Linked DNA regions of Homo sapiens. The protein of the gene in region 3 purifies or fractionates together with the protein of the main gene of each other region. This does not show direct contact. Each region holds a gene or a part of one and is shown on either strand. Other genes may lie near its edges.

Region 1 (8,154 bases), on a different chromosome or scaffold from region 3:
CACCTCAAACTCTGCATGTCTAAAACTAAGCTCCTGGTATCTCCTCTCTCTCCTCAGAGTAGTTCCTCTGGCTCTTTTCCCCATCTCAGTTAATAGGGACGCCACTCTTCCTGTTGCACAGGCTAAAAATATCAGCATCATCCTTGACTTTCTTTTTCTCATACCTTACATTCAGTTAGCAGATCCCACTGGCTTCACTTCCAGCATGTAAAGTCCTATCCAGAGTCCAGCCACTTCTCGCCATCTCCACTGCCACCACCTTGATCCAAGCCACCATCATCTCTCACCTGGGCTTTTCCATGATTCTTTAATTGGTCCCCCTGATTCTGCCCTTATCCTCTTTTGTCTCCCCTCAGTGGTGAGCTTTGTAAGGACAAGGATGCTTCTGTTTTCTCATTGCCCAAAACAGTGCCTGGCACTAATAGATTCTGAATAAACATTGATGGAGTAAACCAGGATTATTTTTGCTTTTCTAGGTGAAACTTCGAGAAATGAACTAAGTTTTTACTTGTCCAATTTTCCTTTCTACAGTGGTAGAGCTTTGTGTTCAGTATGGACAGAATGAGGAGGGAATGGTAGGCGAGCTTATAGCCTTCTGCACCAGCACACATAAAGTTGGCCTTACCTCAGAGATCCTGAACTCTTTTGAGCATGAGGTAAGAACAAAATGAAAGCAAACTAATAATGTGATTCTCCATTTCTGCTCTACAGGGGAGGCATTGTGATATATTGAGAGGAGTGTGGGCTTTCGAGTCAGGCCTGGATTCCAGTCCCAGTGTGAGCTTGGACAAACTATGTCCCTGAGCCTCAGTTTCCTTTTCTGACATTGGGTCTAATAATCTGTATTTTTTATGATTGTTATAAGAATTAAATGGGGCTGGGCGCCGTGGCTCATGCCCATAATCCCAGAACTTTGGGAGGCCGAGGCAGGCAGATCACAAGGTCAGGAGTTCAAGACCAGCCTGGCCAACGTGGTGAAACCCTGTCTCTACTAAAAATACAAAAATTAGTTGGGCATGGTGGCAGGCGCCTGTAATCCCAGGTACTCGGAAAGCTGAGGAAGGAGAATCGCTTGAACCGAGGAGGTGGAGGTTGCAGTGAGCTGAGATTGCGCCACTGCACTCCAGCCTGGGACAGAGCGAGACTCCATCTCAAAAAAAAAAGAAATGAGAATGGACATAAAGCACTTAAAACTATGCCCAGCAGGTGATAAGTCTTCACCAAATAATTGGTATTATTAGGATTGTTATATGTTATAGACAGTCATGGGATGTCTTTGTTTTTAGTCTGTGTGTATCTTAATTCTTTGAGGAATGTTAGATCTTTGATTATATTTTGAATACCTTTTATTATCTCAAGGCTTTTGAAAACACCTCTGCTATTACTTGACTATGAAGTACTGTATTCACTATCTTTTCTTTTTCAGTTTCTGAGCAAAAGATTATCGAAAGCCAGGCATAGTACCTGCAAGGACAGTGGCCATGCAGGAGCTAGAGACATTGTTTCCATTCAAGAGCTGTATCCTTTTCTGCTGAAGGTCTTTGCACCAAGCTACATGTTGTATTTTATAATTTGTCTGTAGTCGCATGTGTAATTTAAAAACAAATAATAAGGCCGGGCACGGTGGCTCAGGCCTGTAATCCCAGCACTTTTGGAGGCCGAGGCAAGCAGATCACTTGAGCCCAGGAATTTGTGACCAACCTGGGCAACATGGTGAAACCCTGTCTCTATCAAAAGTACAAATTTTTTTTTTTTTTTGAGTTGGAGTTTCGCTCTTTTTGCCCAGGCTGAAGTGCAATGGTGCAATCTCAGCTCACTGCAACCTCTGCCTCCCAATCTCAAGTGATTCTCCTGCCTCAGCCTCCTGAGTAGCTGGGATTACAGGTGCACACCACCACACCTGGATAATTTTGTATTTTTTTTGGTAGAGACAGGGTTTCACCATGTTGGCCAGCTGGTCTCGAACTCCTGACCTCAGGTGATCCGCCTGCCTAGGCCTCCCAAAGTCCTGGGATTACAGGCGTGAGTCACCGTGCCCGGCCAAAGTACAAATTAAAAAATAATAATAATAAGCTGGGTGTGGTGATGTACGCCTGTAGATCCAGCTAGTTGGTAGGCTGAGGTGAGAAAATCTCTTGAACCTGGGATGTGGAAGTTGCAGTAATCTGAGATCAGGCCACTGCACTCCATCCTGGACGACGAGGAAACCCCATCTCAATAATAATAATAGTAAAAATTGCCTAATATTGAGATTTCTTCTAGCAATCAGCCCTTGCCTTATATGAAAGTTTATTATTATTATTATTATTTTTTTTTTTTGAGATGGAGTCTCGCTGTGTCGCCCATGCTGGAGTGCAGTGGTGTGATCTCAGCTCACTGCAAGCTCCGTCTCCTGGGTTCATGCCATTCTCCTGCCTCAGCCTCCCGAGTAGCTGGGACTACAGGCGCCCGGCTAATTTTTTGTATTTTTTTTAGTAGAGACGGGGTTTCACTGTGTTAGCCAGGATGGTCTCTGTCTCCTGATCTCGTGATCCGCCCATCTCGGCCTCCCAAAGTGCTGGGATTACAGGCATGAGCTACCGTGCCCAGCCATTATTGTTTTTCTTAACCAGTGTTCTTAGAATTGAAGTGGAAGAAGAAGAGGAAATCCTCTTGAACTCTTACACCACACCTTCAAAGGTAAGTAAACAGTGTTTGGACATTGCATTTTACAAGTAACATTTTAAAATAGTTTCACAACATTTGAAGATCTGAGGGAAAAAATCAACCACTCTCATGCATTTCCTACTATATTTCCACTTATACATCTTCCTTTCTGATCATATGTCTAAATGTTTTACATAATGGCAGTCCTTATAAACATATAGTTATCCTGCTTTTCTCAGCACAACATAAAACATTTCTATAAACATAATTTCTCCATAATTGCCCTTTTTGAATAGTTTCATAGTTTTATACTATAATTGAATAATTCAGTTCTGTGTTGGATCCCAGTGTGAAAGGTCAAGTAGGGTAGTGGAAAAGCATTGCCTTCAAAGTCTGAGTCAGAAGACCTAGGTGACCTGGAGTGAGTTGTTTTATCTCTCTGAGACAGTTTCCTTATCCATAATATCAGGATTCATTCATTCAGTTATCCAGCAACAACTATGTGGCCAGGCGCAGTGGCTCATGCCTGTAATCCCAGCACTTTGGGAGGCTGAGGCAGGCGGATCACGAGGTCAGGAGATCGAGACCATCCTGGTTAACATGGTGAAACTCTGTCTCTACCATAAATACAAAAAAAGAAATTAGCCGGGCGTGGTGGTGGGCGCCTGTAGTCCCAGCTACTTGGGAGGCTGAGGCAGGAGAATGGCGGGAACCTGGGAGGCAGAGCTTGCAGTGAGCCGAGATCGCGCTACTGCACTCCAGCCTGGGCGACAGAGCGAGACTCCGTCTCAAAAAAAAAAAAAAAAACAACAACAACAACTATGTACTGCACTAGACATTGAGTAAACAATGGTGAATGAAACAGACATGGATGGGCTCTGCCCTCAAGAAGCTGACAGCCAGTGCACAATATCCCCCATCTTGGAGGGCTTGAAGAGGAAATAAATAGGTAAAGTATCAGGCCCTATGCAATGTATTCAGTAATGGTAACTATTCTTTATACTAACTAAATAAGTTTGTAGACATTCATAAACATGGAGTGAGCCTTAATTATTCAAAGTAAACTACATCATAAGAAAGAGGTAATTTACATTGCCCTATGCAATGTATTCAGTAATAGTAATTATTCTTTTTTGTTGTTGTTGTTGTTGTTTTGAGATGGAGTTTTCCTCTTGTTGCCCAGGCTGGAGTGCAATGGCACGATCTCGGGTCACTGCAACCTCCGCCTCCCGGGTTCAAGCAATTCTGCCTCAGCCTCCTGAGTAGCTGGGATTACAGGCATGCGCCACTACGGCCAGCTAATTTTTGTATTTTTAGTAGAGACGGGGTTTCACCATGTCAGCCAGGCTGGTCTCGTACTCCTCACCTGCGGTGATCCACCTGCCTCGGCCTCCAAAGTGCTGGGATTACAGATGTGAGCCACCGTGCCCAGCCCAGTAATTATTCTTTATACTAACTAAATAAATTTGTAGAAATTCATAAACATGGAGGGAGCCTTAATTATTCAAAGTAAATTACATCATAAGAAAGAAGGTAAGGGCTGGGTGCAGTGGCTCATGCCTGTAATCCCAGCACTCCGGGAGACCAAGGCAGGAGGATCAGTGACCAGAGATCATGCCGCTGCTCTACAGCCTGGATGACAAAGTGAGACCCTGTCTCAGGAAGAAAGAAGGTAAATAGTTTAGATATGCCTGTGGAGAGTAAGAGGGCCAAAAATGTGCCCCATGAAGTTGCTAACACAAAACCAGGTGCATATAATATTAAAAGAAATAATTAGGTGTTTGTTAGAGTTTCTTAAAATTGGAGAGACTATAACTCATTTGATTTTCCTCCTAAAGTGGTTTTCTGAGTCCATATCCCAGTGAAGGACACCTCCGTTCTTCCATTGACTCAGGCCAAGAACCTTGGAGACCTCCTTAAATCCTTTTTCTCTCACACCCCACATCCAACTTAGCTACCAGTCCTGTCATCCCTCTCCAGGATCTGGCCACCTCTCACCATTTCCACTGCTACCACCAGGTCCACAGCATCATTGTCTCCTGAATGATTGGGACAGCCTCCTAACTAGTCCATTGGCTTCTTTCTGCCATATCCACCTCTAACCACCTCTCCACCCAGCAGCCAGAGTGCTCCTTTCCAGCAAAAGGTCAGGTTTTCTTGCTCACATCTCTCCCACTGGCTTTTCGTCTTTCCTCCTGATATGCAAAGTTTGAACCAGCATATGTGAAGTTCTGTAGGAGCTGGCCCCCTCCTCCTTCTGTCCTCTTTCCCTGCTCCCCTTTGCTCTCTGCTTCTGCCGTGCCAAATATGGGTTCATTTCCTATGTCTCCTTGTCAGGGAACAAGCCTGCCTAAAAGAACAAAGCCCTTCTTCTGTTTTATTTTCTTGCTTTATTTTTCTCCTTATTATTCTCTTGCTTTATTACCACCAAACATGTTATATACTTACTTTTTTGTTTTAGTCGGCCTTCCCTCCATTAGATGGAAGCTCCTTGAGAATAGAGACTTTGTTTTTACTTGCTGCTGTTTTCCCAGCACCCTGGCATGTTAATAGTTGTTGAAAGATCTCTGAATAAGGGAGTGTGGTTGGCTCTCTCAATTGCAATACCAATGGGACCACCACGGTTTTATCTGGTTAACAGCTTCACAGATCCAGAATTTTATGTAATTTGTCTGTGTATCCAGAATTGATCATATTCCGGAGTCTGACTCATGGTAACCCAGCTGTCAGTAGACTGATGCGTAAGCCAGGTGCAAATTTGTTTACTTTACTATTGAAGTAGATACCCTTCCAATGACTGAAATCCCATATTTAGGATACCCCATTCCTGCTATGGAAATACTTAGGAGACTAAATTGTGAATCAAAGTTTGTGACTGTGAGGCCGAGTGCAGTGGCTCACACCTGTAATCCCAGCACTTCGGGAGGCTGAGGCAGGTGGATCACTTGAGGTCAGGAGTTCGAGACCAGCGAAACTCCATCTCTACTCAAAAAATTAGCTGGGCATGGTGGTGGTGCCTATAATCCCAGCCACTCAGGAGGCTGAGGCAGGAGAATCGCTTGAACCCGGGAGGTGGAAGTTGCAGTGAGCCAAGATTACACCACTGCCCTCCAGGCTGGATGACAGAACCAGACTCCGTCTGAAAAAAAAAAAAAAAAAAAAGTTTGTGACTGTGAATTCCACGCTAAATGAGTTGGAGTGAAATGTTGAGCAAACAATATGTCCAGGCTAGAGATACGTAAAATGCTTAGAACAGTACTTATCACATGGAAATTGTTCAGTCACTGTTAGGCCATGCATCAATGGCAGCATGATAAAATAGTCAAAGTGTGGCCAGGCATGGTGGCTCACACCTGTAATCCCAGCACTTTGGGAGGCCGAGGTGGGAGGATCACTGGAGGTCAGGGGTTCGAGACCAGTCTGGCCACCATGGTGAAACCCCATCGCTACAAAAGTACAAAAATTAGCTAGGCATGATGGTGGGTGTCTGTAATCCCAGCTACTCGAGAGGCTGAGACAGAAGAAACACTTGAACCCAGGAGGCGGAGGTTGCAGTGAGCTGAGATCATGCCATTGCACTTCAGCCTGGGCGAGAAAGTGAGACTCCATCTCAAAAAAAAAGAAAAGTGTGAATGTTGGCCTTTCCATACAAACAGTGCCAGGCTGAGGTTGCCTGACCCTTGTCAGGTCTTGGGAACAGGTGTCCCTCTGCTATAGAGGTAAATATGATATGTCAGTGATTTTAGCTTATCACTATTAAATATTTCACCTGTACGATTGACAGCTGTTCTTTTGCTTCCGTGTTCACCATAAATCTGCTGATGATTTGGCTGCCATGTCCCTAACGGAGAGAATGTGTTAGCCTGAGGACTTGACGTTCCCATACCCTTGGCAATTATATTTCTAGTAAATTAATAAACTGGCATCCTTGGTTATAATTTGATTTTCTCTGTGAGTGTGAGAATGTGCTTACCCTAGGATATGAAAATATGGTACCATTGGTGACTACATTTCTGATTAAAAATGATGAAACCGGCCACTGCGGTGGCTCACGCCTGTAATCCCAGCACTTTGGGAGGCTGAGATGGGTGGATCACCTGAGGTCAGGAGTTCAAGACCAGCCTGGCCAACATGGTGAAACCCTGTCTCTACTAAAAATACAAAAATATTAGCCGGGCGTGGCAGCGGGCGCCTGTAATCCCAGCTACTCGGGAGGCTGAGGCAGGAGAATTGCTTGAACAGAGGCGGAGGTTGCAGTGAGCTGAGATCGTGCCACTGCACTCCAGCCTGGGCAATCAGAGCAAAACTCCATCTCAAAAAAAAAAAAGAAAAGATGAAACTAGCCAGGCGCAGTGGCTTATGCCTGTAATCCTAGCACTTTGGGAGGCCAAGGTGGATGGATCACCTGAGGTCAGGAGTTCGAGACCAGCCTGGCCAAAATGGCAAAACCCCATCTCTACTAAAAATACAAAAATTATCCCGGCATGGTGGCACATGCCTGTAATCCCAGCTACTCAGGAGGCTGAGGCAGGAGAATTGCCTGAACCCAGGAGGCGGAGGTTACAGTGAGCTGAGATCATGCCACTGCACACTCCACCCTGGGCAACCCTCCGTCTCAAAAAACAAAAACAACAACAACAAAAAAACATGATGAAATTGGCATTAAGTGTTAATAATGAATCGTATGAGCTTGGTTAAAGGGAGCGCATCCTTGAGAACTGGTACTGGAGTTGGTGAACACTATTGGATTTCAGCCCTGAGGCTGAGGACTAGAACACCAGACTGTGCCTTGTTTACCAAAGTGCTGTCACCTTGCCACGTCTTGCGAGACAGACTGTCATTCTCTCAAAATATCCCTGCCCCACAACACTGGCCGTGGAGTGTTGTAGCCCACTGTATATTAGGAGAATCTTTTGGAGGGATAGTTTGAGAAAATGTGTTAAAATTATAAAATCTTTTTTTTTTAATTATAAAAAAAATAAAGGCAGGGTGTCACTATGTTGCTCAGGCTGGTCTTGAACTCCTGAGCTCAAGTGATCCTCCTGCCTCAGCCTCCTAAAATGCTAGGATTACAGGCACGAGCCACCATCCCTGGCCAAATTCATAAAATCTTTTTCTATCATTTGACCCAGTAATTCTCCCTAGGGGGAAAAAAAAAACTCTTCTGAAGAAATAATTCAAATTATGGGAAAAGCTGTATGCATGAAGATACGCATTTTAGCATTTTTTTAATTTAAAATCTTAATTTGCCAAATCACTTTTCACCTGAGACTCAGCATTACTTGTAATCACTGAAAATTACAAGCAACCCATAATCCAGCAATAGAGAAGTAATTATGTAAATCATTGTAGGTCAGTTTAATTAAATAACACAGCTACTAAAAAGGATAAAGACCTGTAATCCCAGCACTTTGGGAGGCCGAGGCAGGTGGATCACCTGAGATCAGGAGTTCGAGACCAGCCTGACCAACATGGCGAAACTCACATCTCTACTAGAAATACAAAATT
Region 2 (8,154 bases), on a different chromosome or scaffold from region 3:
TCAGTTGTAAAGGTAGCTAGACCAGGATCATAGGGAGGTGCCACTATTCCTATTAATTCATTCTCCATTCCTTTTAACCTCACAGAGCACTAAATTGTACCCACCCACTGCTTCTTGCACCTGGCCTTGAGAAGTAGGAAAAAGAAATGAGATATGATGGAAGGCACTTGTTCAAGAGCTATTGCACAGAAGCCTGGATCTTAACAATGCTTAGACAATCAAGAGTCTGTGAACCCTTGGACCTGTAAACAAAAGATGTAAGCAGATGCACTTTCCTGAATAGCATGTCAGATTCTCAAACAGTCAATGGCCCAAAAACAGATTAGAAACTACTGTTCTACTGTACAGATCAGATGGGGGTAAGCATTTATGAAAGAAATAAAGTTAATTTTTGTTTCAGTGCCTTCCACTGGCCAGGCACCCTAACCCTATAAAAATGCCCACCTGCCTACTTTAAACAACATTCCAGGATTGTGAATTACAACACATGTGGTTTCTAAAATAAGTGTTTCACTTAATGATCAAACACTATTGCTTAATGGTCAAGCATTATCTTGATCATGCTCGAAATGTTAAGTGACTTAGAAAAATGACCTAATCAGATACAAATCTGGCTGAATTTTCTTTTTTTTTTCCCCCAAATCTTGACTTTATTTTTAACATAAAAATGCAAATGTGGAAACCCACCCTACTTTTCCCCCAACATAATGCTTTACCTCTTAAAAATAAAGTACTAATTCTATATACATCAAATGTACCATACAAAAATGTATCCAGTGTTTCTATTGCTACTAAAGTGTTCTAAATTAAAACAAATCGCAGAAAGCCCCTTATTGTAAACAAAAGATTACAAGGTATAAAATCAAGGCACACACAGGCAAATATGGCCAAATTTTCACATCTATGGGATCTACTCTCCTTGCTGCATTAATTTTTTTTTTTTTTTTTTTTTTTACAGCTAGTCACTTTGGTTGACCAGTGAAAGCCATTTTTGCTCACTAGTCATGTTATCTACCCAGTTTTATAAGCTCAAAACTGAAATGCACCTGAGCATTTTCCAGGCCCTGGCCTCTTTATATGCCATAGTGAAAGAGAAGCACTTGAATAATACATTTTAATCCTTATAAAAATTCTTTAGGCAAATACCATAATTCATCAACTCTAAGACACCACTGATTATAAGATGTATCATTATTGCACATACCTCTCAGAAAGAAAAACAGCTGTCAATTATATGGGACCCACCAACGGTAAGATACATTCTGATTTCCAAGAGATTAAAATTGAAAAACTGTGCATCTTAGAATCAATAAAATATAGTTTTATCATCTCCACTCTATAGGTGAGGAAACGGAGATCAGAGTTTGGTAGTTGGCCAAAGCCCCCCAGCTAGTGAGTGGCAGTGCTGGCGCTGTAACCCAAGTCTGACCAACTCCAAAAGCTATGCTTTTTCACTGGACTTCTCCAGGAGGGAAACCCAGGACATGACACAAGAAACGTCTAGAGCCTGATGGCACCAGCCATCACATTAACAGATAACAACCTCCGCCTTAAAGCTTTAGACCGCATAGACTTTACTGTGTGAACCTTAATTACCCGAGTTAAAGAGAAAAAAGCTACATGATCCCATACCAGACAAATAACTAAGAAAAAAAATTCAGAAGCAAACATTACTACAATATTGAATCATCTGTACCCACCCCTCCACCAAAATGATATGCTGGCTGAGGCTGAATATATAATACGATTTTAAAAACCTCATATTAGCTTGAGATATAATCTCTCTGCTTCTGTTATGTCTAAAAGTAGAAATGTATGACATAGTCTCACAAATGATGAAGCAAGCACAGTTGGAAATATACACCTTAGTTTTTTCTGATTTGTTTTATTAACATCTGAAGTCAAATTGCACAAAAAGCCTAGTACATATGATAGCACTTGATAAAAATAATGTAATTCTCAAGGTTTTGCAATTTATTCAAGAATTTATTCAAGAACTGTGATTGAGTGTAAATTAAATCACAACTGCACGATGACTCACCATTTCTGCTATATGAGGGTAACAGTACTTACCATCAGCATAGAGTCCTTTGGGATTATCAGGACAAGATCTAGACAGGTGCCCCATTTCTCCACAAACAAAACATTTTGCAAAAGGAAATTCGCCTGTAAAAATCAACAGTTCCTATTCAGTTGACAATACATATGGCAAGTCATAAAATTAACATTATTTTAAAATACTCTGAATAAAAAATATATTTACATAACTTAAAATTTAATCTCATATGATTTCCAAATACTAAGTGGCACACTCGTAACAAATTGTGTTAAAAAAATACCCAAGGTGCTATTTATTGGCTTTCCCCATGAACAAAACAAAAAACTGAAAGAAACACATACCAAGAGCCGGGTCTACTTTAGCCTTACACTTGGTTATTTCGTGCTCTGTGGACCCACACCTGTAACATATCCCAGTGCCCATGTCTTGATTTTCAAGGGCGGCGGGGCAATCTGCAATTCCATGACCAGGTTTTCTACAATGGAAACACACCTAGGAAAACAAAACGTAGGTTGGCACGCTGCAAAACTATACCAGTGACTTTATTAATTCTTGTTATCAAAAACATATTTAAAACATTTCTCATCTTATTAAGCTATTTTTCTGAAATCTCAATATTTGTAGAAAAAAGCTTTCATACGTTCCTAAACAACGAGATATCCTTTCCATCAGAGGGTTTCATTGCTTTTGAAAACCTCAATCAATAAATCCATAAATCTCAGGAACAATGTTATATATGTGGCTTTGTAGACGGCAATTGCTTAAATGAATTGAGCAAATATGGACTATTCATTTTATTAACTGGAATGTCTGCAGTAGAAAAATGGCATTTTCTATAGGAAATGGACAGTGGCTATAAAAACTGTCACTCAAAATTTGTATTTGTATATAATTATGTACTCAAAATTTTAAAAAATTAATATTTCTTTTAAAGTTCACATAATTGAATGAATTTGGGTCAGACATTTCCATTCAAATTATGATTCAAACCATAAGATAGATAGATAGATAGATAGATAGATAGATAGATTTTTTTTTTTTTTTTTTTTTTTTTTTTTGAGACGGAGTCTTACTCCATCACCCAGGCTGGAGTGCAGTGGCCCAATCTCAGCTCACTGAAAACTTTGCCTCCTGGGTTCAAGTGATTCTCCTGCCTCAGCCTCCCAAGTAGCTGGGATTACAGGTGTGTACCACCACCTGGCTAATTTTTGTACTTTTAGTGGAGACGGGGTTTCACCATGTTGGCCAGGCTGGTCTCGAACTCCTGACCTCAGGTGATCCACCCGCCTCGGCCTCCCAAAGTGCTGGGATTACAGGCATGAGCCACCACGCCTGGCCATAAGATATATTTCATAGCAAAAAGTATATCCTTGTTTTTTACCCTAAATACTTTTTTGTTTTTTGAGACAGAATCTCGCTGTCACCAGGCTGGAGTGCAGTGGCGTGATCTCGGCTCACTGCAACCTCCGTCTCCCAGGTTCAAATGATTCTCCTGCCTCAGCCTCCCAAGTAGCTGGGATTACAAGCACGCACCACCACGCCCAGCTAATTTTGGTATTTTTTAGTAGAGATGGGATTTCATCATGTTGGCCAGGATGGTCTCGATCTCCTGATGCACCTGCCTCAGCCTCCCAAAGTGCTGGGATTACAGGCATGAGCCACCACACCCAGCCATACACATTCTTTAATATTCAGAAATAGGTTTCATTTTTAGAATATATGCACAATACATTTTAAAGGAATAATTTATTCCAAGATGAATTATTTGGCTCCAACATAAAACTGAGCAATGGTTAGTTGTTTACAGAAATTTGAAGAATTTTTTTGCTGCAATAAATGAGAACATCAACCATAATCAAAGATGGCAGATATTTAAACTATTTTATTTAAACTGGAAAAAGATATACATATTTCTTGGATAATAAATAGTCATTTAATTATGTTTTTTCAAAATAAGCACAGGTTTTTTTAAAAAGCAAATTCAACCAGCAAAATAAAACATTTATTTTGCAACTGTCCTTTTTTTCCTACTTAATAAAATATTGAAAAAGAATGAGTCCCTTTAAATTCTTCAGTAACTTGTACATTTAGAATGAGCTGGTCCAAAAAAAAGAAGCTGTATTTATTATACAAATGCAGGAAAAGCTACTGCTAAAACCTGCATCACCACCATAAGAAGTCTTGGCTTCTTGGTGAAGTCAAGGTGGTCTCTACTAAGCTGAGACTACTGCCTTAGTTCACTGCCTTCTCTTTTAAAACCTAATCATCACCTAATACAACATTTTTGAATGGTCCTTAAGTTTAATGTAGATGGGATTGTGAAGCACTGATTGTAAATTTCTATAGCATATCATTTTATTAGCATTTAAGGACCGATGCTTAGTATAAGGTATTAAAAAAATACCAAGGAAGTAAATTTAACAACAGGTCATAACAAGCCATATACTATTTATATAGCACTCCCCTTTTTAAAAAACAATATCCTTCCCCACTTAATTACAAACATAATGCTTTTCTTAAGCGGTCATAACAGTAAATGTTTTCAAATGGTATGTGATTCACCATACCGCCTATGTCAACTAAACTAAAATGACTTAAAATATTTAAAAATCGTTAACTTACACAAAACTCTATCCTGATACCAACAGAAATGTTATCCTTTCTATTCAAATTTATCCATAAGGAATGTTTCATCAGTATTATCTCTAAATAACTATCTTTAAATATAACAATGCATAGACTAATCTTGCAAACAGCCAAAAGACACATTTATAGAGGCTGTTAACATTTTAAGCCTGCAATGGTGCAAACAGTGCTCTACATATAGTAATACTAATAAAAAATAAAAGTATAATAACTAGCAACAAGTCCTCATTCTTATGAAGTGGTGTACTAGGAGGCTTGGGAAACTCACTTAGAGAAGGGAAATAATTATACCAAGTATTTCATCCCCTTTGCCTGACATACTTTAAAATCTAGGGCTAGGCATTAGAGAAAGAAACCTGCTGCCCCCAGCATTCTTCTGAATGTAATATGGGGGAGGGAGGAAGCAATGACTAGGGAGTCTCAAGGACTTTCAATTCTGCTATTACTCTGCTCTAACTAGTATGACTCCTATGTATCTCTTTCCTGTGCTTCAGTATTTCATAGATAAAGAACATCCTTTCCAAGTAATAGGGACCCACACACATTTAACCTGTTCTACTTCATCTTCTTCATAATTTTGACATTTTCTCAATGCTAATTTGAAAAAGGGGCTATTGGAAGGTGAGGATAGGTTTTGGTTTTTTTGGAGGACGAACTCTCGTTTTGTCACCCAGACTGAAATGCAGCGGTTGATCACATGGTTCACTGTAGCCTCGACCTCCCAGGCCCAATCCTCCTGCCTCAGCTGGCAGTAGTAGCTGGGATCACAGGTGTGTACCACCACACCTGGCTAATTTTTTTTTTTTTTTTTGGTAGACATGGCGTCTCCCTATGTGGCCCTGGCTCGTCTTTAATTCCTGGGCTCAAGTGATCCTCCCGCCTCAGCTTCCTAAAGTGCTGGGATCACGGGCATGGGCCACCACATCTGGTCTATAACGTAGGTTTTGAAGTCAGGCTGGGTTTGAATGTCACCTCTGCTACTAGCTAAGTGGCTTCCACAGGTTATTTAATCTATCTGCACTTCAGTGTTTGCCATCCATAATATGGGAATATATGCCATCACCTTTGCTGTGTTGTTGTAATAATTAACCAGTACATCATGTGCCTAGCATATATGTGCTAAAAAAGTACTAGTCCTTAAAACGATGCTCTATAAATCTGGGACATAATGGTAACCAGAGCTGGCTAAGGTATATATGTGTGTGAATATAAGAATAGTTTCCAGCTAAATAAAGTAAATAACATGGTAGAAGTGATGCTCTCACCATTGCATTTTTCTTTGCCGCTTGTCTTTTTAATCTTCTTCCTTCCCGTCGACTGTCTTTCTTTAAAGCAACTGCAATTTCTTCCCTTACTTCCTCACTGTCTGTTGCTATAATTTGCCCATTGTGAACCATCTGTGAATTCTGTCTTAGGTATTCCATGAATCCATTCACATCTTCATTTAAGTACTCTTTTTTCTTTTTGTTCTTTTTATGTTTTGCTTGGGGTGCATCATTTTTGAGGGATAGCCTATTGGCTTCAAGTTGTTTACGCTTTGGTAGGTTTTGGCTTGTTCCCTCAAAGGATCCCTTCTTCATGTCCTCCCATGATGTTGCAGGCAAGGGTCTCTTGTTATATGTGGTACTAACTCGGGCCCACCTGGTCATAATTTCATCAGTGGTACCTTATCAATTTTTAAGACAAGCATGGGTGGTTAGCCATCAACAACAAAAACAACAAAACTAAAGAGACATGCTATATCACTATATGTCACATATGCCCATATGTTAAACTTTTAATTATTAAAACACTTTTTATTTCAGTTAGATATCTGTATACATATTTAATGCTATAATATGCTGCATAGACATGCTTCTAACATAAATCTACCACTTACCAGAAAAGCTGCCACACCAGTTAAAAAAGGTGTGCTTAAAATTGAAAAACTATCTTAAGAAACCAAATTATTTCATAAAATATAAATCAGATAGTAATACAATGAATGCAATTATTCCTCCCACATTCTGCAGTTTTCCCGGCTGTTTATTTTCCTATCTCCAAGTCCCACAGCTACTTTCTCCCAATCTTCTTGCTTCGTCTGCCATTTCAATGCAACAATTTGCATAGCAGATTACTAAGTATACAGAAATCATGTCCTTTAATATGAAGTTTGTTGAAATTTCCTGGCAAAGTTATAAGTAAAACATATAAAAGTGTTTACCATCACAGGATGATCCCGGGCTTCCTCTTACTAATCAAGGTATAAGCTACTTCCAGCCCAGTGATTTCACATCATCTTCAATTCTATTTAAATTATGACTTGAATCATAAGATATATTTCACACCAAAATCTGTATCTTGTTTTTATACTCTTAATACATATGCTTTAATATTCAGAAATAACTTTTCATTTTAGAGCACATACATAAAGAAGTAATTTATCCTAACACTAATGATTTGGCTCCAACATAAAATGGAAAAAAGTTTTGGTCACTTACATACTACCTAGTGATTTGGAGGATATTTTTTTCCTGCAATGAATGAGAACATTCAGCCATAATCAAAGATTCATCAGCTAGTCACATGCTACATAACATTTAGGTCAACAGCGACTGCACACATGATACTGGTCTCAGATGATTATAATGGAGCTGAAAAATTCCTATTGACTTTGTAGCCCTCATAACTTGTAGTGTAACACATTACTCATGTCTGTGGTAATGCTGGTGTAAACAAACCTGGGATGCCAGTCATATACAAGCATAATGCTTACAATGATGTACTGTACATAATACTAGACAATTATAAGTATTCCAGAAAAAAGCAGTTATTATAGGAGATGACAGCTCCATTCATGTTACTGCCCCTGAAAACCTTCCAGTAGGACAAGATGTGGAGGAAGAAAAGAGTGATATTGATGCTCCTGACCCGGTGTAGGCACAATGTGTGTGTCTTAGTTTATAACAACAAAAAAAATTTTTACAGGAAAAAGCTATAGAATAATGTAAGGGAATAAAGAAAATATTTTTATATAGCTATACAACACATTAGCATTTTAAGCTAAGTGTTATTACAAAAGAGTGGGCCGGGTATGGTGGCTCACGCCTGTAATCCCAGCACTTTGGGAGGCCAAGGCCAGGTGGATCACAAGGTCAGGATATCGAGACCATCCTGGCCAACATGGTCAAACCCCATCTCTACTAAAAATACAAAAATTAGCTGGGCGTGGTGGCGCACTCTTGTAGTCCCAGCTACAGGCGCGCACCACCTGGGAAGCTGAGGCAGGAGAATCGCTTGAACTCAAGAGGTGGACGTTGCAGTGAGCTGAGATTGCGCCACTGCACTCCAGCCTGGGTGACAAGAGCAAAACTCTGTCTCAAAAATGAGAGACAGAGAGAATAAACTCCGTCTCAAAAAAAAAAAAAAAAGGTCAAGGAGTTAAAATTAATTTAAAAGTTTATAAAGTT
Region 3 (7,525 bases):
GCAGTGTGATTCTATTTCATTTAATTCTCATTTCATGTTTGTGTCTTCCTTTTCTCTGTATTTCCTCTTGTGTGTGTTAAGACGCGCGCACCCCTTACCTGTTTTTCACTCCTGTAAGCAAGTGCCAATCTTAATCACCGCTTTTCAAGCAAGGGAGATTATCCTCAAATTTCTCCACCAGTCAGAAACCATTCATTCTTGTCTCTCAGGTCCTCTTTTGTGATGAACCTATTGGATAGGTTCCATCCAATACCCTTCTTCAGATCATCTGAAATGATTATTTTCCTAAACGGAACTCTTCCTCTCCTAAAGCTTGTAAAAATTTCTAGTGACATTCAGCTTCCTCTTACCACAGGAATGACATATATTTTTCCTTTTAGTCATATGTACTTCATTAATATATCACCTGATTTGATTAACATGACTTTGGAGAACATTGAATTTTTTGGCTAGATTTTACTTCGTTTTTATTGCTGATAGTGTTTATAAAAATGTTTTATAGTTTATGGTCGGCTGTGAGAAAGACTAACTCAGATCATTTGTTAATGTTGGAGCCCATTTTGTAGAATTCGTTGTGCATTTATTTAAAATTTATTTGTTCATAGCTATACATATATTATACATGTATACCTGCTCACAGCATAAAGTATTTCATGACATACTTGTAAGAGTCAGTGTTCTATGAATTCACTAGAGAAGTTACAGCATTTTGATTATGATACACGAAAAGAAACCCAAGTCATTTAGCTTAACTCCTTAATTTCATAAACCAGAAAACTAAAATCCAAGATAGATTGGGTGACTTGGTCTAGATCACAAACCAAAGTTAGCCATAATTCGGTAGTGTAGTGCCCGGTCCAAAACCTCATAGATAATCTTATAATCAATGGACTCTTTCTGAATGCTAGTCAAAATGTCCTTTTGTGTGAATTTTAATGTACCGTCATCAACTGCATGATATTCTTCCCCATACACAAAGTGTTATCTTTTTGTTGTCCATTTCAGAATTTTCCATGTTAATATTAAAGTTCTAGGAAAAAAGGCTAAGAATCACTGCACATTTATTGAGTATCTCAGTGTGCATCATACCATTTGGTCATTTGAGGTTGCAACAAGTAAAAAACAAACATAAAACCCTTAAATTAAAATAAAAACAAAAAACTTTGCCCTGACAATGTTACAGAATTAACATCCATAAATTTACTTTTCTTGAAAAATTTATTTTCTTTAATTTCGTTTGTTTCCTGTTACATAATTTATATTTAAATTTACATTTATTTATCCAGAAACTATGTCCAAATTTTATGTCCTCTTTTCTGTTATCCTGGAGTTTGGTGAAGAAATCTGTACTTAATTTAGAAAAGAAATCCCTCTAACTGACAATATTGTTAGCTAACTATATATTTCTTAGGCCCATGTCAAATATCATTGCTTATTTTAATAAAGATTGTTTAGTTAGACTAAGAAAATAGTAAATAATAAGGGATGGCATCCGTTAAGTATAAACACTGGATTATTTTTCATAACATAACAGGTCAACAATATCGTTTTGAGGCTGAACTCCTTTACTCCTTTTACTGTAAGCTATTGAAGCCAAACTCCTTCCTACCTTTGTTCATTTATGATGGTGTAAAATTTTAAAATTAGGATCTACATACAGAACAATGCAGAATTATATAAAAATATTTGAATATTGAAAAATGAAGTGGAAATTATTATTATTATTTAGGTACAGGGTCTTGCTCTGTCACCCTGGAGTGCAGTGGCATGATTACAGCTCACTGCAGCCTCAAACTCTTGGGCTCAAGTAATCCTCCTGCCTTAGCCTCTGTTAACCATGCTGGTCCTGAACTCCTGGCCGCAAGTGATCCTCCTGCCTTGGCCTCCCAAAGTGCAGGAATTATAGGCATGAGCTACCATGCCTAGTCCTGAAATTACTATCTTCTTCCTTAACCCCCATCTCCCCCACAAAAAAACAAAAACTTCCTTTTTTCTTCATATTTACATTTTAATTGTATATGCTGCAATGGCCTATTTGTATCACCCCAGAGTCATGTGTTGACATCCTAACCTGCAATATGATACATTAGGAGGTGGGGCCTTTGGGAGGTAATCAGGTCATAAGGGTAGTGCCCTCATGAACAGGATTAGTGTCCTTATAAAAAGACACATGAGCGCTCGCTTTTTTTCTCTGCTCTTGCTATGTGAGGATACAGCAAGAAGAGGACCATCTGCAAACCAGGAAGTGGGCCCTAACCAGAAACTATATCTGCTGGCACCTTTATCTTGCACTTCCTAGCCTCCAGACTGAAAAATAAATGTTTGTTGTCTATGACACTCCATCTATGGTAATTTGTTATAGCAGCCCAAAGTGACTAAGACAGATGCTAACAAATCGAGATTTATTTTAAAAACTATTCTCCTGCTATGAGTTCAATATTTTTATTTCTTTACAATGATTTCAGAAGAGATTACAAAGAGATTAATATACTTAAAGAATCAGACTCTTGCAAACAGTGACATCATTAAAAAGAGCTTATTTTCATTAACATGTGATTAACAGGAAGGAGATGATTGGTGAGTTTTCTTCGTAACCAGGTTCACTGTGGATAGGAAGGGCCTGCCTTCCTTCCCACCATGGAGATCCTAAAATCACAAGCTCCAGCCTCCATCAATGATGACAGGGTTACCAGTTACATAAGCAGACTGCAGTGATAAACACAAGGAGACAGAACAATTAACCAGGTTTGATACAGGCTGTATTTTGAAATTTTCCTGTGACTAGGATAACTAAACAATTTACCCTTGTCCTAACAGGAAACCTCACTTAAACACTTAATTCAGGGAAATCCAAATTAACATTTGGTTGATTTAGAACTGCTGAGTGTCCTGTGATCTGGAACTAAATGGCCTCTGGCTGGTGTCTAAGCACCTGTCACTGTTAGGTATTTGGTCTCAGAATCCCCAAATTAAGGAACAGTGATGTATAGCCATTCCCCAAATTAGGATATAGGCTAAAAGCACATTTTCATTTTGAAACTCAGAACTATTCAAAACTAGCTAAGTTTTATGCCACTAATAAACTTTTGAACATAAGTGTATCAGTCATAAAATGGTCATATTAATGACCAGTTTTTTAAAAAAGACAGCATATATTTAGTTGATCAATTATAAGTGGATAATTGTAGGAGCTGAAGCACACTAAATGTGTTTTAAAAATTTACATGAATGATAATAACTATAATCCATTAAGCTATAAAAATATTCTATATTAGTTTCAGATATCCAAATCTTTATAAAACTAAGGAATTTAAAAAATAATTACTGGTTTATTCCCATAAATTTTTCATTTTCTAAATAAGGCTGAAGTGATCTTTTTGGTAGAAGTTTAAAAATCTTTTAACTTAAAATGGATAATAAAGACTCAAACAGTCTAAATTCATCTGAAGCCTGAAACAATGGAAGAGGAAGTAAGGATATCATAATGAATAGAGAAATTTTAAGAGTTCAATAGATAAAAGCTGATAATATACAGTAGGTGAACTAGGGAGTTATTAGTCACTTCACCAAAGAAATACCTCCAACTCCCCCAAGTTCTTTTAAAAGACAAGCTCTGTTACACATATGAACTCCTCTGGAAACCTCTAAAAAGCCAAAGGTACTTTTGTAGCACATTTCAAGCCACAACACTTCCAAATATCTTGTAACCTAAGCTCTGGCTAACTAAGGGTAATTTAGCTTATCAGCAGTACCCAAATCAAATGAGCTATTCTGAAGATACGGATTCAGAGAAATCACAAAGGCTCATGTGCTTCTTCATTAAACATTTGTCTATTAATTTCCCCAGCTATTAACAATTGTTGTTAATAGTTGGGAGAAGTTCTGAGAAGAAACTGCGCTGTCACGGAAACATTTCAATCCCTGTATTTGTCACATTCACCAACTATCTGGTGTGCACCAAGTTACTGGGAAGAGGAGCTATCAGTTGTTCCCTCCTCGCTCCCGCCTAGTCCCCTTTCCTTCCCTCTTCTCACACATTACAGTTCCTTGTTCCTGTAGTATTCAGAGACATAAAACAGAGGAGGACCTTCTTGTGCTCTATACCTTATAAGCATCATTTTTGCTTTCATCTTAAGCCATTTAAAAGTAAACAATAGTTATTAAGGAAAAAACTGTTAAACAGATGCAAAGTGGAAGAGATTAAATTAGGAATTTCCATACACGATGATGAACAAGTAAGAATTTTTAAAAATATTTATTTATTTTGAGACGGAGTCTCACTCTGTCACCCAGGCTGGAGTGCAGTGGCGCAATCCCGGCTCACTGCAACCTCCGCCTCCCTGGTTCAAGCGATTCTCCTGCCTCAGCCTCCCGAGTAGCTGGGACTACAGGCGCCCGCCACCACGCTCAGCTATTTTCTGTTTTTAGTAGAGACGAGGTTTCACCATGTTGGTCAGGCTGGTCTCAAACTCCTGAACTCAGGTGATCCGCCTGCCTCGACCTCCCAAAGTGCTGGGATTACAGGCATGAGCCACCATGCCCGGCCACAAGTAAGAATTAATAGAGAAAAAAGAGCCAGTGGAATTCTCCCAAACAAGTCACAAGTAAAACTAAAACACCACATGCGAATTCTGTGTCCACTGAACACAAATCTGCTTAATCCTCTCCCCATTTCACTTAGAGCTCTTATAATCCTGGAGGTTCAATTTTTTGACTTGCATTTAATCAGGGTTTCCCCAATTATAATTTTTGAAAGGAACTGTCTCTCAGAAAATTGAGCACTTTAACTTTTTTAGTCCTCCATTTTGTTTGCTACAAGATTTTATGTAAAGCTGAATAAGGAAGAATTAGTGGCTCAGATCGAAGTGGTCTTTCTTTGAGCAAATTAAATGAGAACTTATCCCTATCTTATAAATGTAGCATCTTAGCACATATATGCCACAAACTCTCTAAAATGATATTATTTTGATGAGCAAATTGTGGCCAAATGTGATTGAGGGTAATGAACTCCTTGGGAAGAATAGTGCTTACTTCATCAGAAGCCAAATACACGCAGAGCATGGCTATTTCTTCTGCAGTTGCGAATCTTCCCGTCTTTTGTCTCTTCAGGAAATCATTCCGTGCCTGTGACCAGAGACCATACCAGACATTAGTGATGGAAGCAGCTGTATGTGCTCACCTGCATCTTGTTCAAGGAGTTAAAGGCAAGAGAATCCACTGGCTTGCTGCCTTGATGAATAATCAACTAGGGTTATGGTGATTCTTTTGCCAAAGTTACTCAAATTGTTTGTGTTATACTAAAACCCACAGATATTGTGACACATCAGAAAGCTAATGTTAAAGGATGAGGGCATTATTTTTTCATCTTCAAAAGTTGTGGTAAAGTATACAGAATATAAAATTTACTATCTTAACCATTTTAAGTGTACAGTTCAATAGTGTTAGGTACATTCACACTGTTGTGCCACCATCACCACTGTCCATCTCCAGAACTCTTATTTTTATTATTATTATTTTTTCTTAGAGACAGAGTCTTGCTCTGTTGCCCAGGCTGGAGTGCAGTGTTGTGATCATAGCTCACTGTTGTACCTCAAACTCCTGGGCTCAAGCGATCCCCCAGCCTCAGCTTCCCAAGCAGAACTCTTTTCATCTTACAAAATGGAACCTCTCTACTCATTAAGCATTAACTACTCTTTTCCCTCCTTCCAAGCCCCTGGCAACTACCATTTCACTTTCTGTCTCTATGAATTTGTCTGCTATAGGTATGGAAGAGGGCATTTATTAACAAAAGGTTTAAATACATTTTAAATGCTAGATGTACCTCTTCAGGATTTCCTCTGGCTTGTATTCTTTCTTGTAGAGATGGCGTATCAACTGTTCCTAAATCAAAGGGGGATATTCAGCTTGGTTACTCACTTTCACTGAAAAAGAAATCGATAACTAAACTTCCTTTCCATATGACAATCAGTGAGATTCTTCTCCTTGACTTAAAATGACAACTTTACAGCTGCCTGCCTGAGGCCTCTTATTTAATAGGCTTATAATTTCTTCAATAACATTTCTATGATTTTAAAAACACAGACTATGATTCTTCGTGACACTATGTAGGGACTCTGGATGAATCACCCAGCATTCTCAAGGACATATATTTTAGTCACATTGCATTTATATGATGCTTTATGGATTTTAAATACATTTATGCATATGATCTCAGCTAATCCTCACAATAACCCTGAGATGTAGATAAAATCGTACAAGCACTTTGCCAGCTTAAGGAGCCAGTTTGCCTCAATGATCTCAAAACCATTCTTTGCTGTCAAGTTCACTGTGGCATCTTTGGGGACAATCCCATGGCTACCATAGTCCTTGGTAATTCAGGTGGCGCTAAATTTTTCTTATCACCTTGCCTATTTTCATTGTTTCAAATGCCTACTTTTAACCACAGTTTCAAGTTTTTAATCAAAAATATAATTTAATCTAATTTAAAGTTATTTTACTTTAAAAAAGAAAAATAAGAACAACGCTAACATTTTAAAATTCCACTTAGTTTATGGTCTCCTAGAGCACGTTACCCAGACTTTTTTGTTAACGGACATAAACTGTTCATTCTCTTTAGAGGGCCCTTTTTCAGACTAAAGAGTACTCTGGCAAATAATGTGATCTTTCTGAGGTTGTAACAAATGGTTTTACAGTCATACTTCACCCTTAGATCATGTTCCTGAGAGTGCCATAGATTTGATCTTTATTCAGAAAACATTTCTTAATTTTAGCATCATTTGCTATTTTTTTCTGATGAAGCTGGAAATCTTCAAAATCAGAAAGCCTGACTCCATTTTGGAACCCCCTCTTTAGGTTGGTTATCTGTCTCTTGTCACATTTTACTATAAGCAGCCAGCACTTTCAAGACTCTGGGTAGAAATCACCTTAATTAGATCACCCAGTTCATTAGGAACATCTTCTACCTTCACACTACAGGCAACAGTGTTGATGTACTTTCTGAAACTGTATGACAAAGACACTCTTTTTTCTAATTTTCAATAATATTTTCCTCACTTTCCTCAATAGCCTCCTTAAAGTCCACAGTTTTACCAACAGTGTGCACCTCAAGCTTTCACTAACACTCCTTCAGAATCTTACAGCTTTAATAGCTTTCTCCCTCTGAGGTAAATGAACATCATATCTTACATATGACTGGTACTAATGGCTATTAAATAAGAACTGTAGAGCAAGCCCATGCCTTTAGAGTATTCCAATGTCACTGGGTTCAGCTGTGTCCATGGCACAGACATACTATGCCAGGGTCTACACAAGTCTGGCTGGAGATTTGTGACTATACAACCATCAGCAGCATCTCAGACATACTCAGTCCTCCTCAAGTTTTCTTCTGTGATTGGTTCACTGAGTCACAGCTAGTTCCTTGTTCCAAAGAGTTTGATAACATATTTTCCAATCTCCTGATAAGTCCAGTCGCTGAAACAACCACATTTTCCAAATCATTTTACCACTTATTCCACTGGGTAAATGG
Region 4 (8,154 bases), on a different chromosome or scaffold from region 3:
ATTTGTGAGGTGGACCCAGGTGGGGTGCACGTGAGGATTCAGAAAATTCCTTACACCTGCTCTATATGGAGAACCCAAGAGACCTCAGTTCTTTTCTTCCTCACTGCCTTTTTTGGGGGTGGGCACGTGATGCAGGCAGGAAAACAAAGACAGAAATGTGCAAATGGGGCAATGAGAAGATACCGATCAGCACCAGGGTCTTCCTCTTGAATGCAGGGAGCCGAACGACTTCCTCGTAGGAAACAACATCCAACTGATCAAAAACTAGAGACAAAGAAAACCAAGCAGTGTTCATTTCCAGAGCTAGGGAGAACAGTGGTCCACACTCTGAAATGGGAAACAGCCTCGCGACATCTCAACAAGCAGGGAGGAAGTGACTAGAGATGAGACGAGGGAGGTTGGTGTGGAGGAAGGACTTTGGACTGTATTTTTAGTGTGGTGAGGGAATTTTGAGCAAGGGAGTTTATCTAACTTTTGCACCCTCTCTTCCTCCTTGCCCTATCTCTCTGAGCCAACTTTTCTTGTCTCCTGTCCTCATCTCTTCTCCATAGTTTCAGTATCAGATGTTCCCTTGGCACTTAGAGCTGAAGAATGCCAATGCTATCTCGGTTCTGCCTGAATGTCCCTTATCTTAGAAGATGGTGGTGCTATTGACCCAGCTGCTCAAGATAGAGACCTGGTGTCATCCTGACTCTCCACCCCCTTACCTGCCTACAACCCAAGACTGCCACGATCATTCCCTGGCTGGTGGTGTGCACGTGACGTCTCAGAAAAGAGAAATGCAGATGGAAAGCTGACCGTGCGAATTCTCTGCTCAAAACCCTTCACCAGCTCCACAGTCTATAGTGCAAAATTTAAAACGCTAGGGAGGGTGCACGAAGCTCCCTATGACCTGGCCCTGGCCTCTCCCTCTGGCCTGTGTTCTTGCCTCACTTCCCCTCTCCCACCACATCTACTTCTGTGTGAGGGGTGGGGTGATGAGCAGGTGTGGGCTCACCACTAGTCCTCCTTTACATCCACTGGCCTGACTGCAGCAAGCTTGTGAAGATGGATTCAATAAAAAGAAACCAGAAGAAATGACATGCTTTCTGTAGAATGCGCCTTCTGCTGCGCACTGCACCACCTCCCCTTTTCTGCTGGTTACAGAGACTGGGAAACACGTGAATGCTGCCAGGAACCTGGGGCAAGAAGGCTCAGAAAGCTTACTCGAGCTGTGCTTGGCCAGATATTTGTCTTTGTACTTCTTCTTCTTCCCAAAGGGACTGCAGCTCGGGGCTTCGCTAGGAGCTGACTGAGCCATACTTGCCACTCGCCTGGTAGGAAAAGACAATCAAGGGGTCAGCTTTCCTCCCCCTCCCCTCATACCCCCCCCAGCCACTCAGTCTCTAATGGCACCCCCTTCACTCTCTGAGTGTCCATTACAGTGGGAGATAATGTGTGCAAAGCACCCCATACACTGTTTGGTGCATCTTGCACTGTGCCCTGCCCTCAGTCAGGGACCTGGCTCCTTGAGTCTGTGTCATCTAGTACCTGTCAGCACATTCTGGACACAACCCACAAACAACTCTCTTTCTTTGGTCTAGACCATAAAGGTCTCAAACCTTTATGACCCTACCTCACTCTAAGAAATACACTGTACATTGCAAGCCATTATTGCACATACATCTATAAACAAAACACATACACACACCCCACATATATATCTAAAACAACTGCTTCACAAAACAATAACTTGTATTACTACATGTAATATATTCTAATATTTCTATTCAGTGTCAACCCCACAATGGTTGTAATCTTTACACTGGGGTAAGTTTGCACAGGCAGAGGGAGGCTCAGTGTTGGATGTCTTATCAGTTGGAACTGTTTTGTGAATTTTTCTGCCATTCCTATGATGTAACCAGGACTAAGTGAGCAATCTGACTCGGGGACAGGAATTATTTCTTCCATGTACCAGGAATGTGCCTAAAGGACACATACTTAAATGCGACTGTTTTCTGCAGGACTCCAAGGAAATCCCAGAAACAGCATGGCTGGTAGAAGCGCACTAGCTTGGGAAACAGGAGACCAGGGAGGGCTCAGTCCCAGCACTGTCACGTGCTTGGTAACTATGGGGAAAACGTTTAAGGAAGCAAGAGGCCCACATAAGAATGAAGAGCTATTTGGGCTCCCTTGCCTGTGGTTGCCTCTCAGTCCAGCTTATCAACGCATGGTTAACCCTCCCCCACCCATTATGCCAGGAAATCTAGGAGGTCTCCTTGGTTGAGAAACAGAAACTACAAACAAAATGACAGATTTTCTGAAGCTAAGTTATTTGTGGCAGGCACATGGCCCTTCCACCTGCACAAAAATGGCTCACCATTCCTGCAGCTCAGGGGAAGGGATCAATCCTGCTGACTCCTTGGAGGAGCCTTCCACCCGTCCCTGCCACCAATTGCTGTCATCCTTGTTGATAATCTGGATAATGTCCCCAGTAGCAAACTTCAGTCCCGCCTCCTTGCAAGGGATCAGATTGTCCTTTTTGGGATCATAGTCAAACTGCGCTCTCATGAACATCTAAAAAGAAGGTAAAAGGAACTGCAGGCGGCAGCTTCAAAAGAAACACCAGCATCAGAGCATGTCCTGCTGTAGACAAATGGGGTCAGGATGGAATGAACAACAGGGAGGTAAGAATGGTGGGGGAGCACCCAAGAAAGAGAAATTGAAACGCTGAAGTGATTGTGTTTGCGGAGGGGTCAGAATGAATCCCTTTAACAAGAAGGCATGAGAAGCCAGGCGCAGTGGCTCACGCCTGTAATCCCAGCACTTTGGGAGGCCGAGGCGGGTGGAACACATGAGGCTAGGAGTTGGAGACCAGCCTGGCTAACATGGTGAAACTCCGTCTCTACTAAAAATACAAAAATTAGCTGGGTGTGGTGGCGTGCACCTGTAGTCCCAGCTACTCGGGAGGCTGAGGCGGGAGAATCGCTTGAACCCGGGAGGTGGAGCTTGCAGTGAGCCGAGATTGTGCCACTGCACTCCAGCCTGGGCGACAGAGTGAGACTCCGTCTCAAAAAAAAAAAAAAAAAAAAAAAAAAAGAAGGCATGAGATATCTTTCCACGTCAACGTGTCCACAGTTACTGCTGGATCTGGGTCGTCTGTCTCAGTACAGGGCAGCTACTCTTTGAACAACTGTTTTCACAATTGAAAATATGGACACTCATATCTATCAAAGAACTTGAATTTATTATTGAAAATTCTCCTCTCCTGCTCCCAAACACACACACACACACACACACACACACACACACACACACACACACCTACCTCATTACTTCATTGACAAATTTTCCAAGCATCATTTGAAGAAAGAAGGCTAATCTCATACGAAAACAGATTATAGAAAATGATGGCACTTCCCAACTCATTATAAGCATGATACCCAAATCTGACAAGAATCTTATAATTTCTCTCTGCAACAGAGATGTAAAAACCCCAAACAAAATATCAGCAAGTCAAATTTAGTTATGTATAAAAAGTATAATAAATCACAACCAAACAGGATCTAGTTCAGCAATATAAGAAGGTTTACTACCTGAAGGGCAATAAATTCACCACGTTAACATAAAAATGGAAAAAGATCATATGATCCCCTCAATAGATGCAGAAAAAGCCTGTGATAACATTCAAAACCCATTCAAGATTAAAATTCTTAGCAAACTTGGAATAGAAGGGAGGTTCTTTACTGTGAGAAAGAATACCTACAGAAACCCTACATCCAACGTCATACTTCTCAGTGAAAGATTAAAAGCTTTCCCTGCCTTTTTCAAAGGACATGGGTCTTGCTATGTTACCCAGGTTGGTCTCGAACTCCTGGGCTCAAGCAATCCACCCGCCTCGGCCTCCCAAAGTGCTAGGATTACAGGCGCATGCCACCACACCTGGCCAGCTTTCCCTTTAAGATGGAAAAATAAACAAAGATGTCTGCTATCATCACTTCCACTGGGATACTGTGAAGATGCCTCTTTTATCCAAACTGATATGTAGGTTTGACACAGGGATAAACAAACAGTCCAAAAGAAAAGAATAAAAAGTTCCAAAATAGACCTGTAAATATTACCATGACAAAAGTGACAGTGTACAGTAAATGATACTGGTTCAATTGGTATCCATATGGAAAAACTGGAATCTTGACCTCTTACCTTACAATGTATATAACAATCAATCCCAGATGGGTTGTGGATCCAAATGTGAAAAATCAAACAAGTAAGCATTTAGAAGAAAACACAGGAGAATATCTTGTTGACCTTGTGGTAAGTAAAAACTTTTAAAACAAGACATAAAAAGTGCTAATCAGAAAAAAGTGGTAGATTGGATTTCATTAAAATTAAGAGTTTCTAGTCATTAACAGGAACCATGAAGAAAATAAGCCACAGAAGAAGAGAACATACTTGGGATGCATATGACAAAGGACTCTTATCCAGAATATATGAGGAACTGCTACAAATCAGTAAGAAAAGCCTTGAATTGGTATCTTACAAAAGAGGATATCCAAGTGGAAAAAAACATATAAAAAGGAGTTTACCCTCATTAGTCATTAGAGAATTTTTAGAATCACAATGTGATACCACCATCAGGATGGCCAAAGGGTGAAAAAAAACCCAACAAATCAGACAATGCTAAGTATTGGTGAGAATACAGAACAACCAGAACTGTCATACTGTGCAGTTGGGGATGTAACATGGTTCACCAACTTTGGAATACTATTTGGCAATATCACCTAAAGATGAAGACACATATATCCTACAACCTGGCAATTCTACTCTCAAAAGAAAGGCATAGATGTATCCACAAAACACATGCACAAAAATCATATGATTTTTCTCCATTTTTCTGTTAACGTGGTGAATTTATTGCCCTTCAGGCAGTAAATCTTCTCATATTGCTGAATTAGATCCTGTTTGGTGAATGGCAGCCATTCAATGTAAGACCAAAAAAGCTGACAGAATAGATTAAATTGTAGCATGTTCATACAATGAATGAATGAGAATGAAGCAATATAGATGATTCCCATAAACATAATACTGAGCGAATAAAATAAGACACCAAAGAATTCATACTGTATAATTCAACGTTAATACATTTCAAAAGGGGGCAAAACTCATCCCTGCTGTTAGAAGTCAGGGTTATGGTGGGCCTTGAGGAAACACGCATGGTGAGGGGGCGGCGGTCTTAGGCATGGGTGTACTCAGTTTGTGAAAATTCATCCAGTTTTATACTTGTGATTTGTGCCCTTTGTTGAATATATGCCCATATATGCCAAAACTGCAATTTAAAAGTTTACTTAAGAAAATTATACCGTCACACTACAAGTAACCTGCAATAGAAACTTCAGATTTATTCTTTTAAATATCTCCTTCTTCCACATTGACTTGCCATGGCCCTGTCCAATCTATTCCTCTACTGGCTGATGAGCTATGTGTGAACTGGGAACCATTTCTCTTTATATCACCTCCATGTTCTAGCACAGTACTTTGTACATGGTAGACCCTCAATAAATTGTGAATAAGTGCTCAACAGATTCTATCTATCTTTTGTTTCTTTCTTTACTTTGCCACTATCAATCACGGGGCTTTATTATTGCTATTTTAAAAAGTATTTGCCAATTTGCTTGGTGAAAACTGGTGTCTCATGCATATTTTAATTTGCATTTCTTTGATGATCGGTAAGATAAAATATTTTTTCATATGTTCAATGCTCATTTGTAGTTTTCCTCCTGTGAATGATCTCTTCATTCCCTTTACCCATTTTCCTCTTGGAGCTGTATTGATTCCTTACCATCTGTAGAATAAAATTACCCTCTCCCTTCCTACCTGACCACTAGCAGCAAAGGCTCATTCATTCTCTACTCCTGTCGTCACTATGTTCTCCATTGAGGAAAGGGGAATGAGCTCCTGTATTTTATACCAGGCAGGGAATAATGGGACCCTGAGCCAAGCAGCTACACACTTGCGAGATACTTAGAACTTAAAGTTAGACTCACATCCCTTATAATCAAATTTCAAAGAATATAAGACAACATGGCCCGACTCCTGCCATCATGACAACAGAGAAAATGGTGCCACCCACCTGTAGTGCAGGAAGACGGCTTTGCTGGTTGGGAATTACTTTTAATGAGATCATTCCTTTGGTTTCTTTCTATTAAAAAAAATGGACATAAAATTGTACAGAAAACTAAGTTGAATGATGTGATCATTCATTCAAAGTCCCAGGTTTTTTTCCCCAACAACCATCTTTACATTTTGAGATTTTGTAGGACAATTCCTCCTTTAATACAAAAGTGTCATGTGCCCCATAAATCAGCATAACAATATGAAGACATGCAAAGAGTAACAAAGAAAAGCTAACTAAAGACTTTTCCGAGCTGGGCACGGTGGCTCACGCCTGTTGTAATCCCAGCTCTTTGGGAGGCTGAGGTGGGCGCATCGTCTGAGGTCAGGAGTTCAAGACTAGCCTGGCCAACATGGTGAAACCCTGTCTCTACTAAAAATACAAAAATTAGCCAGCGTGATGGTGGGTACCTGTAATCCCAGCTACTTGGGAGGTTGAGGCAGGAGAATCGCTTGAACCCAGGAGGCGGAGGTTGCAGTGAGCCGAGATCACGCCATTGTACTCCAGCCTGGGTGACAGAGCGAAACTCCATCTCAAAAAAAAAAAAAAAAGACTTTTCTTCCCCATTCTTTACCCCAAAAAGTCCTGAAGAAGTTCCTAAAAATGAACTATGGCGCATATATATCCACGCCTTTCCCCATACCAACAAAAGCATTACAAATATTTACATACATTATGCATACATATGTATTGTTTGTTTTTAACAAAAATGGGATTCTACTATATACGTTATAGCTTGCTTTACTTCATTTGGCATTACTTCATGGAACACCAGATTGATGCTCTGGGTTATTTGCCCTGCTTTAGAATTTTACTAAATAAAGGCAGAAAATTATCATTTCTTACACAGATTAAAGACTAGCAGTGAAAAGAGCCCCCTCAAGAAGGTACAAATACTTTGACAGAGAGATGAGGTCACTGATACCAATGTGGATCAACACTTATGGAGACAATGGAAGGTCTTCATCTAGCATAGAAAATACCCACCATCGCCTTCTGCAGCTGATCCACTGAATGATTTGTCACATTTGTGCCATTGATTTCTAGGATCTCATCCCCCACGTGAAGGGAGCCTGCCATGAAATGAAAAATCAATCCACAAAAGAACAAAAGTTCAAACAGGAGCTGTCAATGTAACTCAAGATACCATAGAAGAGAAACCAGGATTTACAGCATGTTATGAAACAGATTGTGTCAAATACTCAGGATTGAAAACATTTGACTTGACAGTTTAAGATGGTCTCATCCTCCTTGGCCTCAGTAGTCCAACAGCACAATAAAACACCTTGTCCTCAAATTCCTGGAACTAGAGTGGCTACTGACTCCAGACTATGACACAGATGTATACACTAAAAAGAATAACAAAGCAAGGCAAAGAACTCAGTACTCCTCTTTCACCAGCAAGCTCCATGTTTCTTTGTTGTTTAGCTCAAACCCCAAAATGCTACCAAGTGGTACTGCTGTCCTTTCCAAGTCTAATGCAATGGGTGGCATGTGGCAATTGCTCAAATATTAACTTACTAGAAAAATATTGGTATAAATAGGTGTGAAAGAAGGCTCAGATAGGGAGATGGTGGCACTGGGCAATTCACATAGAGATCTTATCATGTACTGATTCTACAGAGCCAGTTATTAAGCCACAAAAAGTCTCTTGGCACACTCACAAAAATGCTACCAGTTTGGAGGATTATAAGCTTCATGCCCCACACCACTGAACAGGGAGTAAATTATTAATCCCTGAATCAAACCCCACCCAGAGCTCCCACAGAGTACCTTGTCTATGGATCATGCCACCATGAAGAATTCTGGCCACCGTACAGGACTGTTTTTCATTCAGCTTCAGCGTGATTCCCTGAAATAAAGGCGACGGCACAATAAGCTTTATTTTAAGCTCTTTCTGAGGTTATTTTAGAAAGAACTTACGGTAATTTCTCAGGAAAATATTTTCCATTTATACCCAGGATAGTCCTCAACTAGAACAGGCATGAAGCCTGCTTTGAGGA

The links.
Region 1: the proteins of BDH2 (region 3) and POLA2 purify together in Homo sapiens (affinity purification with mass spectrometry; one large-scale study listed by BioGRID and IntAct). This does not show direct contact.
Region 2: the proteins of BDH2 (region 3) and ZCCHC9 purify together in Homo sapiens (affinity purification with mass spectrometry; one large-scale study listed by BioGRID and IntAct). This does not show direct contact.
Region 4: the proteins of BDH2 (region 3) and MPP1 purify together in Homo sapiens (affinity purification with mass spectrometry; one large-scale study listed by BioGRID and IntAct). This does not show direct contact.

Annotation. Positions count from the first base shown.
Region 1 is NC_000011.10:65,266,051-65,274,204, forward strand, and holds part of POLA2 (DNA polymerase alpha subunit B), read left to right. Parts: intron 1-531; coding exon 532-656; intron 657-1,426; coding exon 1,427-1,518; intron 1,519-2,621; coding exon 2,622-2,679; intron 2,680-8,154. UniProt on the Homo sapiens protein: Accessory subunit of the DNA polymerase alpha complex (also known as the alpha DNA polymerase-primase complex) which plays an essential role in the initiation of DNA synthesis.
Region 2 is NC_000005.10:81,302,958-81,311,111, reverse strand, and holds part of ZCCHC9 (zinc finger CCHC domain-containing protein 9), read right to left. Parts: intron 7,903-8,154; exon of another isoform or gene 6,909-7,902; intron 6,372-6,908; 5' UTR 6,355-6,371; coding exon 5,971-6,354; intron 2,552-5,970; coding exon 2,401-2,551; exon of another isoform or gene 2,167-2,400; coding exon 2,074-2,166; exon of another isoform or gene 138-2,073; coding exon of another isoform or gene 86-137; intron 1-85. Other genes in the region: ACOT12 (acetyl-coenzyme A thioesterase), read left to right, coding at 86-137. UniProt on the Homo sapiens protein: May down-regulate transcription mediated by NF-kappa-B and the serum response element.
Region 3 is NC_000004.12:103,077,050-103,084,574, forward strand, and holds the end of BDH2 (dehydrogenase/reductase SDR family member 6), read right to left. Parts: intron 5,881-7,525; coding exon 5,822-5,880; intron 5,125-5,821; coding exon 5,032-5,124; intron 2,707-5,031; coding exon 2,653-2,706; 3' UTR 543-2,652; downstream 1-542. UniProt on the Homo sapiens protein: NAD(H)-dependent dehydrogenase/reductase with a preference for cyclic substrates. Catalyzes stereoselective conversion of 4-oxo-L-proline to cis-4-hydroxy-L-proline, likely a detoxification mechanism for ketoprolines.
Region 4 is NC_000023.11:154,783,845-154,791,998, forward strand, and holds part of MPP1 (55 kDa erythrocyte membrane protein), read right to left. Parts: intron 8,004-8,154; coding exon 7,925-8,003; intron 7,225-7,924; coding exon 7,139-7,224; intron 6,179-7,138; coding exon 6,110-6,178; intron 2,557-6,109; coding exon 2,360-2,556; intron 1,314-2,359; coding exon 1,207-1,313; intron 265-1,206; coding exon 184-264; intron 1-183. UniProt on the Homo sapiens protein: Essential regulator of neutrophil polarity. Regulates neutrophil polarization by regulating AKT1 phosphorylation through a mechanism that is independent of PIK3CG activity.